Linked DNA regions of Homo sapiens: region 1 is linked to region 2. The links come from fine-mapping of genetic effects on gene expression. A gene starts in region 2. The other region holds a variant in brackets. All regions are shown on one strand. Distances are between the middles of the regions. Region 1 holds the start of LOC101928543 (a long non-coding RNA gene). Region 2 holds the start of ATP8B3 (ATPase phospholipid transporting 8B3).

The links.
Region 1: its variant is fine-mapped to the expression of ATP8B3 in unexposed skin (GTEx, PIP above 0.99).

What each region holds. Positions count from the first base shown.
Region 1 is chr19:1,768,338-1,776,654 of GRCh38, reverse strand. ONECUT3 (one cut homeobox 3) reads right to left here. Exons shown (of 2, transcript NM_001080488.2): 2 at 1-1,502. The coding sequence ends at 1,210. It overlaps LOC101928543 (a long non-coding RNA gene), which reads left to right and starts at 2,305. Exons shown (of 5, transcript XR_007067085.1): 1 at 2,305-2,397; 2 at 2,488-2,619; 3 at 2,928-3,021; 4 at 3,115-3,212; 5 at 6,825-6,888. The variant A/G (reference allele first, on the strand shown) is at 3,217.
Region 2 is chr19:1,808,769-1,817,085 of GRCh38, reverse strand. ATP8B3 (ATPase phospholipid transporting 8B3) reads left to right here and starts at 4,810. Exons shown (of 29, transcript NM_138813.4): 1 at 4,810-4,900; 2 at 5,202-5,597; 3 at 6,403-6,464; 4 at 7,352-7,443. The coding sequence starts at 5,350. REXO1 (RNA exonuclease 1 homolog) reads left to right here. Exons shown (of 16, transcript NM_020695.4): 13 at 273-388; 14 at 517-655; 15 at 741-861; 16 at 932-1,838. The coding sequence ends at 1,020. MIR1909 (microRNA 1909) reads left to right here and starts at 848; the gene lies at 848-927. RefSeq lists enhancers at 4,017-4,176, 4,557-5,302 and a silencer at 4,727-5,096.

The DNA of each region.
Region 1 (8,317 bases), 40 kb after region 2:
GAGAGGAGCGGGGGAGAGCGCGGGGTGGGAGGGGGGCGCTCATCTTCATTTCCGACCCTTCCCATTTGTAAATATTTTTGGCAAAAAATGGAGCAAGCGGAATCCACCTTCCTCGGCGTCTTCTCTCTTTGGCGAGAGTGGAAACCAACACCACGTTCAACCCCGCTGCCCCCCTGCAAGCCCAGTTCAGACCCTGACGCGGGCGGAAAGGGGGGCGGTGGATTCCAGAAGGTTCCACGCAGGAAGCGTCTCCACGGGCCCGTGCAGAGGGGCTCCTCCGGGCGGCCCCAGCGGCGCCTTCTCCGGCCGGGTCCCCTTCTCCTGGGAGCCTGGGCGTGGTCTCCCGTGTCCGGAGCTGCGTCCTTCCTTGCGCTCCACGAAGGTGCCTAAAGGTAAAGTGAACTCAACAGACGGGGCGGGGCGGGGGCGTCTGGAATTTACCCGCACGTGGGAGCCCCCCGTCCCCTGCGGCCTGGGATGGGGTGGGAAGGGTGCTCGCCCGTAGGTGCTGGGCGCCCGCCGCAGGCCCCTCCCCAGACTTTAAGGCAGGCGATTCTTGGCACGAGGAATCCTGGCCGCAGAGAGGGGCAGCTCAGTTCTCGGCCGCAGGGGCCGTCCTGCCAGCGGGTGGGGTTGGTTTTGGAGAGGGTGGGGGACCGTAAGGATCCGGCTTGATGTGGGTTTTTGGCGACTTTGGAAAGGGCTGAGGTCCCTGGGGAGGGGGCCGGGGCGGGTGGGGAGGAAGGAAGTTTTCTACTACCTCCCTCGGTGGGGCAGGGGATCTGACGGAGGAGGGGTTATTCTTTAAAATTCCATTTTTAAATACCCGGTTTATATTTCTAGTATGTGCTTCTTGACCCGCTTTAGGGGACAACACAGTGAGCCCTGGTTTTTCTCGAGGCCCTCTGGGCGTCCTGAATGGAGAGGGGGCTGGGAAACCCCTTTCTGTCACTCCCTCCCCTCCGGGGGGGGGTGGAGGGCTTCCTTTGGCCTGGAGGGAGTGGGCATGGAGGGAGGAAGGGGGGCCCTTTTTGTGCACTTGGGCTGGGGGGTGTGCTGCTTCCCCCTCCCCGGGTGTGGGGGGCCCGGATAGCACCCCCTCCAGGTGCCCCCTGGGGGCGGGTCTCCGGGCCGGCAGGATGTGGGGAGGTGACGTGGGGGCACAGCGCCCAGGCCGTGGAGGCAGGGAGGGCGCGGGGCCGGGGCGCCTCAGGCCTTGGAGAAAGTGGCCGTGGCGCCGGCGGGGCCCCCGGGGGCCGTGCTGGGCTCCTCAGCCCAGCGGTTCATGCAGCGGCGCCGCGCGTTCATGAAGAAGTTGCTGACGGTGTTGAGCTCCAAGCCGAGCTGCTGCGAGATGGTGACCTGCATCTCCTTGGACGGCCGCTTGTTCTCCTTGAAGATGGCGATCAGCGTGCGTCGCTGCAGGTCGGTGAACACCAGGCGCTGCTTCTTGGGCTGCAGGGCGCGCTCCTTCTGCTGCTCCTGTTCCTTGCGCTTGCAGGCTGCGGGCGAGCGGCGGGCGGGCGGGCGAGCGGGACACAGCGCCACCGTGTGGCCGGCCGGGGAGAGGCAGGAGGCGCACGCCGCCCGGAGGATGAGGAGGAGGGGAGAAGGGACACGTTGGGGAAAGGCGAATGCACATAAGGTCCCAGGGAGAGCCCAGAAGCAACAAGAATGCAGGGAGAGGCGGAGGGGGAGACAGCGGGGAACACAGGGACGCACAGAGACAGAGACAGGGAAACAGCAAGGTCAACAGGGAGACAACAGGAAAGTCCAGGATGCAGCCAGAGGGCGGTGGAGACAGAATGGAAGGCGAGGACAGGCAGGGAAAGCAGATGCGGTGGGGGTGGGGGGAGGACAAAGAAGGGGACACAGTGTGAGTGCCCCTCTGCAGGCATGGCTACCACCCCCTCCAGCCCCCTTCTCCATGGAGCCCACTCAGGCACCCCCCAAGCCTCATACCCCCCAAACCCCGTCCTACCCTCAAACGCTCCCTACCTAAAGGACCACAGAAATTGATATTGGTAACTTTCTCCTCTCCTTTCTGCAGCCCCAACCTGGGGGTGTTGGGGAAATGACATGGAAACTGCACATGAGAGTTTTTGGCTCAGTGTAGACTTGGGTGAAATAACTGGTTAATTACTAGGTCCTGGGGTGCATCACAAAACCCAGCAGCCTTCCCCAGAAATGGTGGGCTAACCAGGGCCTTTCCTTTCTTTCTTTTCTTTTTTTTTTTTGCGGAGGGGAAGTCTTGCTATGTTGCCCAGGCTGGTCTCGAACGCCTGGCCTCAAGTGATCCTCTGGCCTCAGCCTCCCAAAGCACTGGGATTACAGGTGTGTGCCATGGCAACTGGCTGTGACAACCAAGCTCTACGAATGAGCAGCAGCGACACTCCTGTAAGGCCTGATACCCTTAGGGACCCTGTGAGTCCACAGCCCAATTCCGACATCTGAATCCCTGCCTCCTGCTCCTGCCCCTATCCACAGGCTGAGACCACCCAGACTTGGCCTCCCTCGAGCACCCAGTGGACCCTCTGGAGCGCAGAACATCTAAGAAAGAAGACTTTGGAGGAGGAGGGGAGAGTGCAGGGACCACCTCTTCCTCTCCCAGATGAGCAGGTCACCCTTCCTCTTGGTCAGCCCGCACAGATCACGGAGAGGGCTGAAGGAGGCTGCCCCATGGCCTGCAGACCAGACACTTGCAAAGGGGAGAAAAGCAAAGGCTCGGGGTGATGGGGCAGGGCTGAAGCCGAGTCCTGCTCTTCCTGCTCCAGCAGCGAAGTGAACCCCTCCCCTCAATGCAGTGGGTGTCAGTGGGTACAAAACACAGGCTTCCCCCACTAGGAGCTGGGCCACAAGTCAGATGGGCTCATTTGTGGCATCAGCTTGAAACTCCATCAGAATCTCAATTTCTCTCCTGCATCCAGACTGGGACTGTGGTGCTGAAGAGGCTGTCCTGCCCTTGTCTCCATCCCGGAGTTCCAGCTACTCTGTGACCCCCAGAAGTGGCCGGTGGTGCAGGTAGTACTAGTGGGTCTCTGCTCCCAGTCTCTTCTCTGTGCCAGCCGTCGTGGCCTACTGGAATGGCACAGAGAGCTTTTCTTTTCGTTGCAGAACAGCCTGGAACATGACATGCTAGATCAATGTCCATACACGTCCACAGAAATAAATGAATGTTCCTTCTGCCATGACTCATGTCTCGGGGACAACAGGTTC[A/G]CCCGTCTAGGGTGTGAGCTGACGCACACTTCACTCCCTCTGACCTGGAATGTGTGGGGCTTCTAACTGCGGTTTCAGGTTTTATGATTAAATGCAAGTGATGCCTGTGGGTTACTGCACATTTTAGAAAAGCGTCTAACATGAAAAAGAGAGGGAGAGAGAGAGAGGGAGGGAGGCAGGAGGGGGGAGAACAATGGAGAAAAATGGTTTGGTGGGGGAGGAATAAACTCAGAAGGAACCGACAAGGCAGGCAAAGCTATAATTAATATTCCCAGAGGAGTAAGAGAAAAATATCGTATCCATGAAACAAGTACAGGATGCTGTTAAGTAAAAGGGACCATTAGAGAGTGAGGAAATGCTCTTAAAATGTGAATATATAACAGCCAGAGTAAAATAATTCCATGTAAGGACTGGAAGATAAAGTTAAGCAGATATTGGCCGGGCGCGGTGGCTCACGCCTGTAATCCCAGCACTTTGGGAGGCCGAGGCGGGCGGATCACGAGGTCAGGAGATCAAGACCATCCTGGCTAACACGGTGAAACCCTGTCTCTACTAAAAAAAAAAAAAAAAAAAAAAAATTAGCTGGACGTGGTGGTGCATGCCTGTAATCCCAGCTACTCGGGAGGCTGAGGCAGGAGAATTGCTTGAATCTGGGAGGCAGAAGTTGTGGTGAGCCAAGATCGTGCCATTGCATTTCAGCCTGGGCAACAAGAGTGAAACTCCATCTCAAAAAAAAAAAAAAAAAAAAAAAAGAGTAAAGCAGATATCCCAGAAAATGGAACACAAGCAGCTGCAAAGATGGGAAATGAAAGAGAATAAAAAGTTAGAGGATGAATTAAGATGAAGCAGGGTTGTCACCTGATCAAGAGACAGTTCAAAAATAGAGGAAGAGATGATCAAATAATGAAAAAAAATCTAGCGTTGAAAGATGAGTTTCCAGTTTAAATGTGGTCAGGTGCAGTGGCTCATGCCTGTAATCTCAGCATTTTGGGAGGCTGAGGCAGGAGGAACACTTGAGGCTGGGGGTTCAAGGCTACAGTGAGCATGATCTCACCACTGCACTCCAGCCTGGGTGACAGAGTAAGACTCTCTTTTAAAATAAATAATTTTTAAATATAAATAGGCCCACTGGGCATGGTGGCTCATTCTTGTAATCCCAGCACTTTGGGAGGCCAAGGTAGGTGGATCGCTTGAGGTCAGGAGTTCGAGACCAGCCTGGTCAACATGATGAAACTCTGTCTCCACAAAAAATACAAAAAAAATTAGCTGAGTGTGGTGGCAGGTGCTTGGAATCCCAGCTACTGGGGAGGCTGAGGCAGGAGAGTCGCTTGAACCCAGTAAGCAGAGGTGTGAGCTGAGATCACACCACTCACTCCAGCCTGGGCAACAGAGCGAGACTCCGTCTCAAAAATAAATAAATAAATAAATAAATAAATAAATAAATAAATAATAACTAAATAGGCTGGATGAAGTGGCTCATGCCTCTAATCCCAGCACTTTGGGAGGCTGAGGTGGGAGGATCACTTGAGCCCAAGAGGTTGAGAGCAGCTTGGAGAATATAGTGAGACCCCATTGCTACAAAAAATTTAAAATTAGCCAGGCATGGTGACTCACACCTGTGGTCCCAGTTATTCAGGATGCTGAGGTAGGAGGATCATTTGAGCCCAGAAGGTCAAGGCTGCAGTGAGTTATGATCATGATACTGCACTCCAGCCTGGATGACAGAGCGAGACCCCAGCTCTAAAAAAATGGGGGTGGGACATCAAGTCCTCAGCTCATTGAATGAAAAAGACACTCAAGCCTCGTTGTTGTGAAATTTCAGAGCACCAAGAATAAAGAGAAAATCCTAAAAAGCGCCTAGAGGAAAGCCAGATGTCATGCAAAGGATCAAGAATCCAAGCAGCTTTGGGTGTGCAAAAACTAGCAGACAACAGAGCAAGGCTTTCAAAGTTCCAAGGAAAAGTTATTTTCAGCTAGAATTGCTAAATAACAAAAGACCAAACATGAAGGTGCAATAAAGATATAATCGGATGTTCAAGGACTCCAAAACTTAACTTCCCACATACCCTTTCTCAGAAAGCTACTGGAGGATGTGTTCCATTCAAACGAGGAGGTAAATAAAAAAAGGATGGTGTGGGATTCAGAAAATGTGATCCAACCTAGCTGAAAGAGAAAAGGGGTCCTCCAAATCAGGATGAGGGGGACCCTGGAAGACAGCTAGACAAAAGGACCCAGGGTATGGAGGGCAGCCCCACCCAGATCAGAGATGACCTAATATGTGTGGAAAGTCCTATTGAGTTGGTTTTAAATTTTGTTGGGGAGCGTGGGAAGAATTTTTGTTTGGCAGCTATCAACTCCTGGAAAACCAAAGAGTTGTACAGGAAAGGAAATGCAGTCCTAGTACTCTACATGGCTCAGCTGTGGACAATGTTTTCCAAAAGCGTAATAATGTTAATTACTAAATGTTAATTTAGGCAACAGACTGTATTTGTAATTATATTGAGAGACTGACAGAGAGGGAGAGTATGGGTATGAATCTGGAAAGATGGCAAAGGAAATCCTGAAGGGTGAACAGTGTACCAGGGAGCCTTTTATGTGTGAAAGGAGAGACAAGAACCTATGTTTATATTTTATCTGCATAAAGAAACATGGAAGGAAATGCAAAAAACTGAATTGACCTCTCACCTCTTTGGCACTCGGCCACCCTATGAGGATTACAGGAGAGGACCCAGTCCTCCATTCTTTCAAAGGGAAAGCTGAGTCAAAACTCAACCGGGGCCTTGAAATTCCAAGGGAGGCCCTTCTCGCTCACCTGTTGTAATGTTTAATTCATTCACTCACTCATTTATTCATTCACTTAGCAATTTACTCACAAATTTATCCTACATTTACAGTAGGGACAGAAATACAAATGCTCCTCAGAAAGCTCACAAGAGCTTTGTGTCAAGAGCTTTATATGTATCTGGTCACTCAATTCTTAACAATAATTCTTGTTTTGTTTTGAGACAGGGTCTTGCTGTGTCGCCCAGGCTGGAGTGCAGTGGTGCAATCATGACTCACTGCATCCTTGAACTCCTGGGCTCAAGCAATCCTTCCACCTCAGCCTCCCAAGTAGGTGGGACCACGGGTGCACATCACCACATCTGGCTAATTAAAAAACAAAAAACAAAAAACCCCCACAAACATATATATATGTTTTTTGTTTGTTTGTAGAAATGTGGTCTCACTATGTTGTCCAGGCTGGTCTCTAACTCCTGGGTTCAAGCAATCCTCTAGCTTCAGCTTCCCAAAGTGCTGGGGTTACAGGCATGAATCACAGTACCCAGCCTCAATCCTTACAATAATTCTACAAGGCAGGGGGTTTTCTCCTTATTTACTCAGAGAATGTGAGCCACCCCTCAGGCTTGCCCAGCCAGTCCCAATAGGGCAGCCCAGAAAACAGAGTCCACTGGCCTAGATGGGGGAGGGAGGTAGGATGCATATCGTCCCTTTCCCACCCCACCTCCCAGGCTCCAATCTGGTGCCTAATGGGGACCCCAGAGGCAGAGGCTGGGGGAGGGGCCGGGCCAGGCAGAGTCTGAAAAAACTTCCCGTTTTGTCGATTGCAGCAAAAAGAGGCTCTGCTGCCCCCCTTCCCGGCGTTCAATCTAATTACAGCTCCTCACAGCCCAGATCGATCCAGTCGGAGCTGTTTACCGCGAGCAGCTTTGTCATTGCTCCCATCCCCCACAGCCGCTGACAGAGGTGTGAGTTGGAGTAGGGGGGCCGCCTGGATGCCCCCTCTGTGCATCCCCTACCCATCACCACCGCCACCTGACCCCCGCCAGCACCCCACCCAACATCAGGTTCACCCCCACACCAATCCTAAAGGCCACCCCTGTGCCAACCCAGAGGCCATGGTGGTTATGGACCCCTTGTGCAGAAGTGAAAACTGAGACTTGGAGAGAAGGACTGATGGGGTTCAGAGTGGGGACGGGGGTGAAGCCCTGGACTTGGCCCTGGTACCAACCACCAGCCTCATGCTGCCAGGGCCCACCATTGCCACCTCTGCCACGCGACCTCCACCAGCCTCCAATGAGGTCTCCACCTCCGTCCTCTCCTCCACCATCACTCCTGCACCACCAATGTCAGTGCTATCCCATCACACCCTCCATATCACCTCCAACTCCAGCACCTCCTCCTCCTCCACCACCTCCAGCACCTCCACCTCCTCCTTCATCACCTCTTCCTTCACCACCTCCACCTCCATCACCTCCACCTCCAGCACCTCTTCCTTCACCACCTCCACCGCCACGACCTCCACCTCCATCTCCATCACCTCCACCTCCAGCATCTCCTCCTCCATCACCTCCACCTCCACTTCCACCACCTCCACCTCCAGCAACTCCACCACCTCCACCGTCACCTCCACCTCCACTTCCACCTCCACCACCTCCACCATCACCTCCACCTCCACTTCCACCTCCATTACCTCCACCTCCAGCACCTCTACCTCTACCTCCTCCACCTTCACCTCCACCACCTCCACCTCCACCACCTCCACCTCCACCACCTCCACCTCTACCTCCGCCACCTCCTCCATCGTCTCCACCTTCCACCCCCATCACCACCTCCATCACCTCCACCTTCCACCTCCCCACACCTCCTCCATGACCTTTCTTTTACTCACCCCCTTCCTCTGTTTTCTTCACCTCCCCCTGATTTCCTTCATTATCCTCATCAACACTGCTGAACCCCATCCTGGGATTCTCCTAGTATGTGGCCAGCACTGCATACTCAGCCCCTGGTTCCATCACCAGCAGCTCCCGACCTGTAGTCGGGGGGATAGAGAGTGGCCCCCAACACAGACCTTGGCCACCAAGCTGGCGGAGGAGTGGGGCGGGGCCAGGCTGTCAAGCTTGCTCTGGGACCCCAGGCGAGTCCCATTCCCTTGGAGGCCTCAGTCCCTTCCTTTGTAAAGACAGTGCGCCCCCTTCAGGCATGTCCCGGTGCAGGCCAGTCCTTCCTGGGCTCCTGAGCTCTTCCAGCCGCTTCCCTCTCCCCATCCACCACCAGCCGCCTCTCTGTCTGGCCTCCCCCGCTGGCCTCACTCACTCAGCTC
Region 2 (8,317 bases):
GTGGCTCCTGCCCTGGACCAACACCCCATACTTCCCAGCAGAGCCAAGCACACCGGGCACTGGGCCCCGGCTCTGCCTCTGAATGGGAGGCAGGAGGGCTTTGCGAAAGGGGGTTACTGAGGTCACACCCCACTCGGCCTCTCCTAGAAGTCCCACAGAGTCTCTGGTCACTGCCTCTGCCTGGAGGGGCTCTGGAGACTCAAAGGGGCAGGGAAGGGGAGGGAGGGAGGCCGGTGCCTGGGACACATCTGAGGTGCATCCCTTGCCCGCAGTCCTACACCACATATGGCCTGGAGCTGACGCGCGTCACGGTGGTCGACACGGACGTGCACGTGGTTTATGACACCTTCGTGAAGCCTGACAACGAGATCGTGGACTACAACACCAGGTGTGGCCAGTGCCCTCCACGAGCTGGGAGCCCTCCCAGCCGCCTCTCCCCAGGGACCCACCCTCCCCCGCCCCACCAGCCAGTGCTTCCAGGCTGAGCCCTGGTGCCCCTCCTGCCCGTTCCCCCAGGTTTTCGGGGGTGACGGAGGCTGACCTTGCCGACACAAGTGTCACGCTGCGTGACGTCCAGGCCGTTCTGCTGAGCATGTTCAGCGCTGACACCATCCTCATCGGACACAGCCTGGAGAGCGACCTCCTGGCCCTGAAGGTGCCCTGCCGGCCCGGGTCCCGCGCGGTTCTCCAGCAGGACCTGCGCAGGCCCCACGTGCGCTGATCTCTGCCGCTGCCCACAGGTCATCCACAGCACCGTGGTGGACACGTCTGTGCTCTTCCCCCACCGCCTGGGCCTCCCCTACAAGCGGTCCCTGCGGAACCTCATGGCCGACTACCTCAGACAGATCATCCAGGACAATGGTGAGTGCCGGTGCCTGCCCTGGGGCCGTCCCTGCGCAGGGGCCGGGTGCTCACCGCATCTGCCCCGCAGTGGATGGGCACAGCTCCAGCGAGGACGCCGGCGCCTGCATGCACCTGGTGATCTGGAAGGTTCGAGAAGACGCCAAGACCAAGCGATGACGCCTGCCCGCCTCCCACCCGCCTCTCCTGCCGTCCCGCTGGTCCTTAGCCCCATGCCTCTTCCAAAACAGTGCAATAAATCTCCGGTAACCCGTCCACCTGGCCGAGGCAGCCCAGAGCAGCGGGATGAGCTGGCGGCCAGAGAACGCCCAGCCCAGCCCACCCCCGCTCACGTCCTGCCGCACCCCTCCGCCGGTCCCCACCCTCTGCCCCCCAGCCCTCTGGCGTCTCTAGAAACTGCTGCTGATGGAGACCAGGACAGAGCCCGCCCCCACCCGGCCCGCAGCCCCTCCTGCCCCTCCTGCCAGGCCCTCCCTCCCGGGTGGTGGCCGGCACCTCTGCTCCTCACGTGGGTCGCGGGGCGGGCTTGTCCCAGGTTTGTTTGAGACAGTCTTTTTTTATTTTGTATTGTTATTTTTATTATTTTTAATTTAAACCTGATGACTTGCACAGCATCTTTCCCACCGGGAAGAGCGGGCCTGCTGCCTTCCCTCCTGCGGGGTGGGGGTGGGACAGACCCCAGTGGGGGCCAGGGCCACACTCAGCGCAGTGTGGGCTGGACCCGCCTCTGTGCTCCAGGGGCTGGCCGGTCTTCGGGGGCGCCGGCTTCCACCACTCGCCGCCCCACCCCTGCACTCCGTGACCTCTGAGAACCCAGCTGGCCCCTCGTTAGCCCCAGGGTCTGCCGTCTAGAGGGAGCCCACCGGCCTCCGGACACTGTCTTCCCGCTAGAGCCCCGTCCTCCTCTGCGGGGCTCTCCGGACCCCCTTCCCCCTCACCTCCAGGCAGGGACAGAATAAATGTTTGTATGGATTTTAGATTTTGTGGTGGTCTTGGTCTTGGTGCCTGGTGAGGCCTCTGCATGTGCCCCGGGGAGGCCACTGTCCCTGCAGCCGGGACTGATTCTCTTCCCATCAACGCAGAGAAAACAGAGCAGTGAAACTTTCCCTCACAAAAGCTGGCCCAGGGCTGGCTCCCCCAGGGCTGGGCCACACCTGCTGTGGGGTCCCAGTTCCAGCCCCAGATCATGGGCCACCATCCTGCAGCTTCTAGTGCCTCTCGGACAGTGGGTGGTGTCCCCAGCCCTGTGTGGAGCTGGGCCCTGTGCACAGAGCTGGCTTCCCTCTCTGCCCTGCCCAGAGATAGGGACTGCACACAGATGGTGAGAGGGGGTTAAAGAGACTGGGAGCTGCTGTGTGTTGCCCGTCAAAGGATGGAGTGCAGACACGGAAAGCTGCTCCGGCCCTTGCCAGGAAACGCCACACATTGTGTAGTGCACGCACGTCTCGGGCAACTGTGGTTGCATCGGGACCCCATTTGGAAATGGGAGGCCCAGGGGTGTTTAGGCCCCACTTTTTATTGACCTCAAGTAGAAAAAGTGATGAGCCTTGCGGGACAGGACCCAGCAGCTGGGGGCAGGTTGCCTGGAGTGGGTTTCCTGCCACCCTGGTCTTGGGCTTCTGCTGAAGGGCAAGGCCAAGGGCACAGGTCCCGGGATGAGGACGTGGGGGCCCTCCCCAGAGGACTCCATCCCAAGGCTCCCTTCCCGGTTCTGGGCTCTGCATCTCTCCAGGGCCCTCCTGGGGGACCGTGGTTAGGCCAGGCCCTTCCACCCTCGAGGGCTGTTCTTGTGACTAGTGACTCTCCCACCTCTTCTGTAAAGGAGTTGTTTTCTTTTTCTTCTTTATTTTTGAGACACAGTCTCGCTTTGTCACCCAGTCTCAGCTGGCTGCAACCTCTGTCTGCCGAGTAGCTGGGATTATGGCTGTGCCATCACACCTGGCTAATTTCGTATTTTTAGTAGAGATGGGGTTTCACCACGTTGGCCAAGCTGGTCTCGAACTCCTGACCTCAAGTGATCCACCTGCCTCGGCCTCCCAAAGCGTTGGGATTACAGGCATGAGCCACTGTGCCCGGCTCTGTGTTCTAAATAAATGGCGCAGGCGTGTATGCGCTCTGTTTCTGTGCATTCCCATGTGATGTCTGCCTCCCCCTTCCCAGAACGCACCTGGTGCCTCAGGACATAGCCCACGGGGGGTCCCAAGGCTGGCCAGCCCTGGCTTCAGCCCCCAGGGACTCCCTTCAGCTTGTGAAGCCACCTGTTGCCACTGGAGGCTTCAGGGCCTTTGCACAAGTGCCCTGGGCAAGCTCCTGCCCCCAGATAGTGCCCCCTGCGAAGGCTGGGGTGGGGGAATCTGGTCCTCACAGCTGCACCCAACCAGGTCTCTTCTAAAGTTTATTAGAACAGTGTGTTCAAACTCCCAGCCCCGGCTTTTTTTCGTAACCACTGAGCAAGCAAGCAAGCACAGGGGAAGTGTTGAAGGAATGAAAGGAGAGAAGTCAAACACAGTGGCCTGCCTGCCTGCTTGTGGTCCCAGCTACTCTGGAGGCTGAGGCAGGAGGATCGCTTGAGCCCAGGAGGTGGAGGCTGCAGTGAGCTCTGATCGCACCACTGCACTCCAGCCCGGGTGACACAGTGAGACTCTGTCTCCAAAAAAAGAGAGGTTCCCTGGCAGCCTCCAGGGCCAAGCAGGCTTCCAATTTGGGCTTCCAAAGAAAGAGGGTTTGTGATCACCGAGAGCCCTCAGGTGGTTGCCGCTTTGATGGGGGAGGTGGCTTCCCTATCCCCCTCCACCCATGTTTGCCTCTCCCTTTGGGCCCTCACCCCAGGTAGCCTCACTCTTGGGGGCATTTCATCTTCAGCAGCCCCTCCGCACACACTTTCTGACCCTGGCTCCAGGCCCTATCGCTGGCCTGGACCCGCCCTAGCCTCGTCGCTGAACTCACCCCTGCCACTTCTTCAGTAAGGATCCCTGAGCCCCTGCCACCTGCTGGAAAGAACCCTGCGGGCTTCCTCTTGGCCTTAGGGTGGTCTCAATGGCTATAACCGCCTCTCCCCAGCCTGGTGCTCAGCCCTGCATCTGCGCCTAGGAGGCGCTCGTTGAACGTGTATGGGATGAATGAACGAACCCAGGACACGGATCAGACATGACTTACATAACCGCCGTTACCTGTGGTCCTTCCTCCTGCACTCTGCCACGCTGGCCGCACCAGCCTCAGCCCCGTCAGGTCTGCAAGGCCCATTCCGACCTGACCCAGGCCCACCTTTCCAAGAACCCTTCCAACCCCGCCCTGCGGTGCAGGTTCTTTCTGCTCCCTGACCAAGCCCGGCCCGGCCCTGCCCTGACACCCTCTTCCCTTTCAGGCTCCGCCCCTGCACTGGCACTGCTCCCTAAGGCCCTCCCAAGGCCCTGCCTTCTGTCCTGGACCCACCCTGAGCGCCCTCCTACCCTGACCCTGCTCTGCGCGGCCCCGCCTTCCTCCTTTGTAACGGCTCCGGATCCCAGCCCCGCCCCTACCATAACACTGCTCCGCAAGGCCATGCTCAACCCCGCTTCCCGCTCTGGCCAAGCCCCTGAGTCCTGGCCCCGCCCCTACTCTGACTTTGCTCAGCGAGACCCCGCTCGTCCTCGCCTTCCTTCTAGTCCCTTCCCCAAAGTCCCGGCCCCTCCCCAGACCCAGGCACTGCTCCCGAGCGTCTTCTATCCCGGCCTGTTCTGCGAGGCTCTGCGAGGCCCCGCCCTTCGGCCGTGACCGCGTCCCTGAGGCCTGGCCCCCATCCTGCTCGGCCGTGCTCCGCTCGGCCCCACCCTCGAGGCCCCGCCCCTTCTTCGCCTTGGCCCCACCCACCCCCTCCAGGCCCCGCCCCCGGCCCCCTTCCGGGGTCCGAACTGGCTCCACCTTCGCCTTGGCCGGGCCCCGAGGCCCCGCCCCGAGATCCCGCCCCCCGTTTCAGGACCGTTGGCACCGGGCTAACGGTTCCACCACGTCCGCCGCCCTGGACGCCCGCGGCCTGCCCCCCCCTGCCTCTCCTGCGCCGGTGAGCGGCGGGTGCTCCCACTGCTGTGCGTCCCCGGGAGCCCGCGCACCCTCTCTGGGCTCCACCCAGGCTGAGAGCTGGGGTCGTGGCGGCGGGGGTGGAGAGCGCGCCCCTAGAGGTTCGCGCGGTCGGGGCCCCGGGGCGGGTGCAGACAGCCCTGGACTCTGGAGCCCTGTCCAGGGCGGTCCTGTGCCCCTGCGGCTGCGGGAAGACGGGGTGGGGGGCTTCCGAGTAATGGGGCATCCCAGTTAGTGAGGGGGCAGGAAGCCAGCGCTGTGTCCGTGTCTCTTTCTGCCCCCAGATACACTTCGAGTGGATTCTGGCCATTTGAGCATTCTCTCCAACTCTCCAATCCCCAGTCTGCCCCCACGGGGGTCTCCCCCACCTCTCCCCCGTCCCACAGCCTAAACCCCTCTTCGCCCTGAACCTCCCTTTTCCTCATGCGGTGAATGGGCACTGGCCCCGCTCAGACTCCCAGGAGCACCAGAGCTGGCCCTGAGCCAAGCCCTGCCCCACCAGGACCTGGGGACACGGGTGACTCAGACGTGACTCAGGAAGGCTCAGGTCCTGCTGGCATCCGCGGAGGTGAGACGGTGATCAGAGCTGGGATGGGAGACTCCCCAGGCAGAGGGGCACCTGAGAGGAGGCACAAGGCCCAGCCTGGCCGGGCTAGGAAGTATGAATGGAGACCAGAAGGGTGAGGACGGGTGCATCGGGTGGCCGGAACACAGGGGCAGGGGCTTGGCGGGGAGGGCACTGCTAGAGAGCTGGCAGGTGGGGGGCCAGTTGCTGGCGTCTAGGGGTGGTTTGCCCATCCTCATAGGGGGCCAAACCAGGGCCCCCGGTGCAGGGCTAGAGCCAGACCCACATTCCTGAACCTGCTAGTGGAGAAGATTCCAGGATCTTCTGACGATGTCCGTCTGCCTCCATCGCCCCCATCAGAGTTTGCTGCCCAGCCTGGGGGGGTGAGGAGGGGAGTGGCCATGCCTGACCCTCATGCTGTGTTTTGAGATATAACATATAGCCCGGGGGTCCCATTCAGTCAGTGAACAGATGACTGAGCCCCTAAGCTGGTGCCACATGGGGAGAGGGGCAGGAGGCCGTCAGTGAAACCAGGAGGAGGTGAGAGTGGTCCTTTCAGGAAAAGCGAGGTGTGGGGAGCAGTGGCCGGAGGCTGGCATGGCCAGAGGCTGGCATGGCTGGCGGTAGAGTCCTTCTAGGCTGTACTGGCGGGAGGCGACCAGGGTGGCTGGCGGGGGACACTGGCAGATGGGCTGTTGCAGGTTTGAGGATCATCTTGGGGTCCCCTAGGTCTCAGGATGTCCAAGGCAAGACACACAGCCTATGGCTGGACATTCAGAGCCTGGCGGGGAGGCTGCAGATGAGTGTGGGAGGTAGCATTTGAGAGGGTCGGCCCCTAGGCTGTGAGCTCCTTGAAGACCGAGTGGTGCCCAGCAAGGGCTGGGGTCACTGCTGTGACCCGGGGCCCTTCTCTCCCACAGCCCCACCAGCATGGGCAGCCTCGGCCAGAGAGAAGATCTCCAAGATGAGGACAGGAACTCAGGTGCTGATCCTGGGCAGAGGGGGCGGTGCAGGTGGGAGGGATTATGAAGTTCAGGGCTGGCCAGGCGTGGTGGCTCTCCCCTGTAATCCCGGCACTTTGGGAGGCTGAGGCGGGTGGATCACTTGAGGTCAGGGGTTCGAGAGCCTGGGCAACATGGAGAAACCCCGTTTCTACTAAAAGTACGAAGATTAGCTGGGCGTGGTGGCGTATGCCTGTAATTCTAGCTACTTGGGAGGCTGAGACAGGAGAATCACTTGAACCCAGGAGACCCAGGAGGTGGAGGTTGCAGTGAGCTGCGATTGTGCTACTGCACTCCAGCCTGGGTGACAGAGCGAGACTCCATCTCAAAAAAAAGAAAAAAGTGCAGGGCTGAGGCTGAGACGGGCTGGGGCCCCCAGACCTGCACGTCAGGCCTTGCCTAGGATTCTCATTTGGTTTCTAGTAGTCTCCAACCCTAGTACTGACTGGGTTTGGGGGATTTGGCTCAGGATTTGGGGGCTGCATGCCCAGAAAGATCTGGGCCGCCAGCTGGATGTATGGCCTTGGACACCCAAGAGCCCATCACCAAGCCTCAGTTTACCCCCCTCTGTAAAATGTACAGGCCTGAACGGTCTCCCAGGGCCTGTTCTCTGCGTCTCAGGACAGGCCCCTGGCTGGGGGTGTGGGTGGCCACTCTCGGAATCCACTTGTGCCGGCGCCAACTATGGGCAGGGTCTGGTAGGTCCCCAGGTGGTGCCTGCTGCCCGACTGTCTGTTTACGGGCTCTGACATCTCGGGCCTCCCCAGTGCCTGGGTCCCACGGGCCCCATGAGCCCTCCTCCGGGCGGTCATTAGGGGTGTTTGTCCTGGGCCTCGAGCTCCAGCGACGCCCGGCTCTCTCGCTGCAGCATTCACCTGGAAGGTCCAGGCCAACAACCGTGCCTACAACGGGCAGTTCAAGGAGAAGGTGATCCTGTGCTGGCAAAGGAAGAAATACAAGGTGGGCGGCCCCTCCCGCGCCTCCCTGCTCCAGAGGAGCTGCCGTGGTACCCTCGGGGAATCTATTTTTTGCTCCTCCTGAGTCCTGCCTCTGCTTGTATTTGCTCGATAGTTTTCTTTTTTTGGTTTTCGTTTTCTTTTTCTTTCTTTCTTTTTTTTTTTTGAGACAGAGTCTCCCTCTGTTGCCCAGGCTGGAGTGCAGTGGCGACATCTCGGCTCACTGCAACCTCCACCTCCGGGGTTCAAGCAATTCTCCTGCCTCAGCCTCCCAAGTAGCTGGGATTACAGGCATGCACCACCACGCCTGACTAATTTTTGTATTTTTAGTAGAGACAGTTTCACCATGTTGGCCAGGCTGGTCTCGAACTCCTGATCTCAGGTGATCCACCCACCTCGGCCTCCCAAAGTGCTGGGATTACAGGCGTAAGCCACTGCGCCCAGCCTCTTTTTTCTTTTTTCTGTTTTGTTTTAAGATGGAGTCTCGCTCTGTCGCCCAGGCTGGAATGCAGTGGCGAGATCTCGGCTCACTGCAACCTCTGCCTCCCGGGTTCTAGTGATTCTCCTGCCTGAGACTCCCAAGTAGCTGGGATTACAGGCACCCACAACCACGCCCGGCTAATTTTTTGCATCTTTAGTAGAGATGGGGTTTTGTCATGTTGGCCAGGCTGGTCTGGAACTCCTGACCTCAAGTGATCCACCCACCTTGACCTCCCGAAATGCTGGGATTACAGGGGTGAGCCACCATGTCTGGCCGATATTTTTATTTTCATCTCGAGGACCGAACCGCCCGTCCTAACCAAATCACTGGTTTGGCACAAGAGTTCTGTGTGTCTCATTTGCCCTGTCCCAGTGCACGTGAGGGTCAGTTAATACCC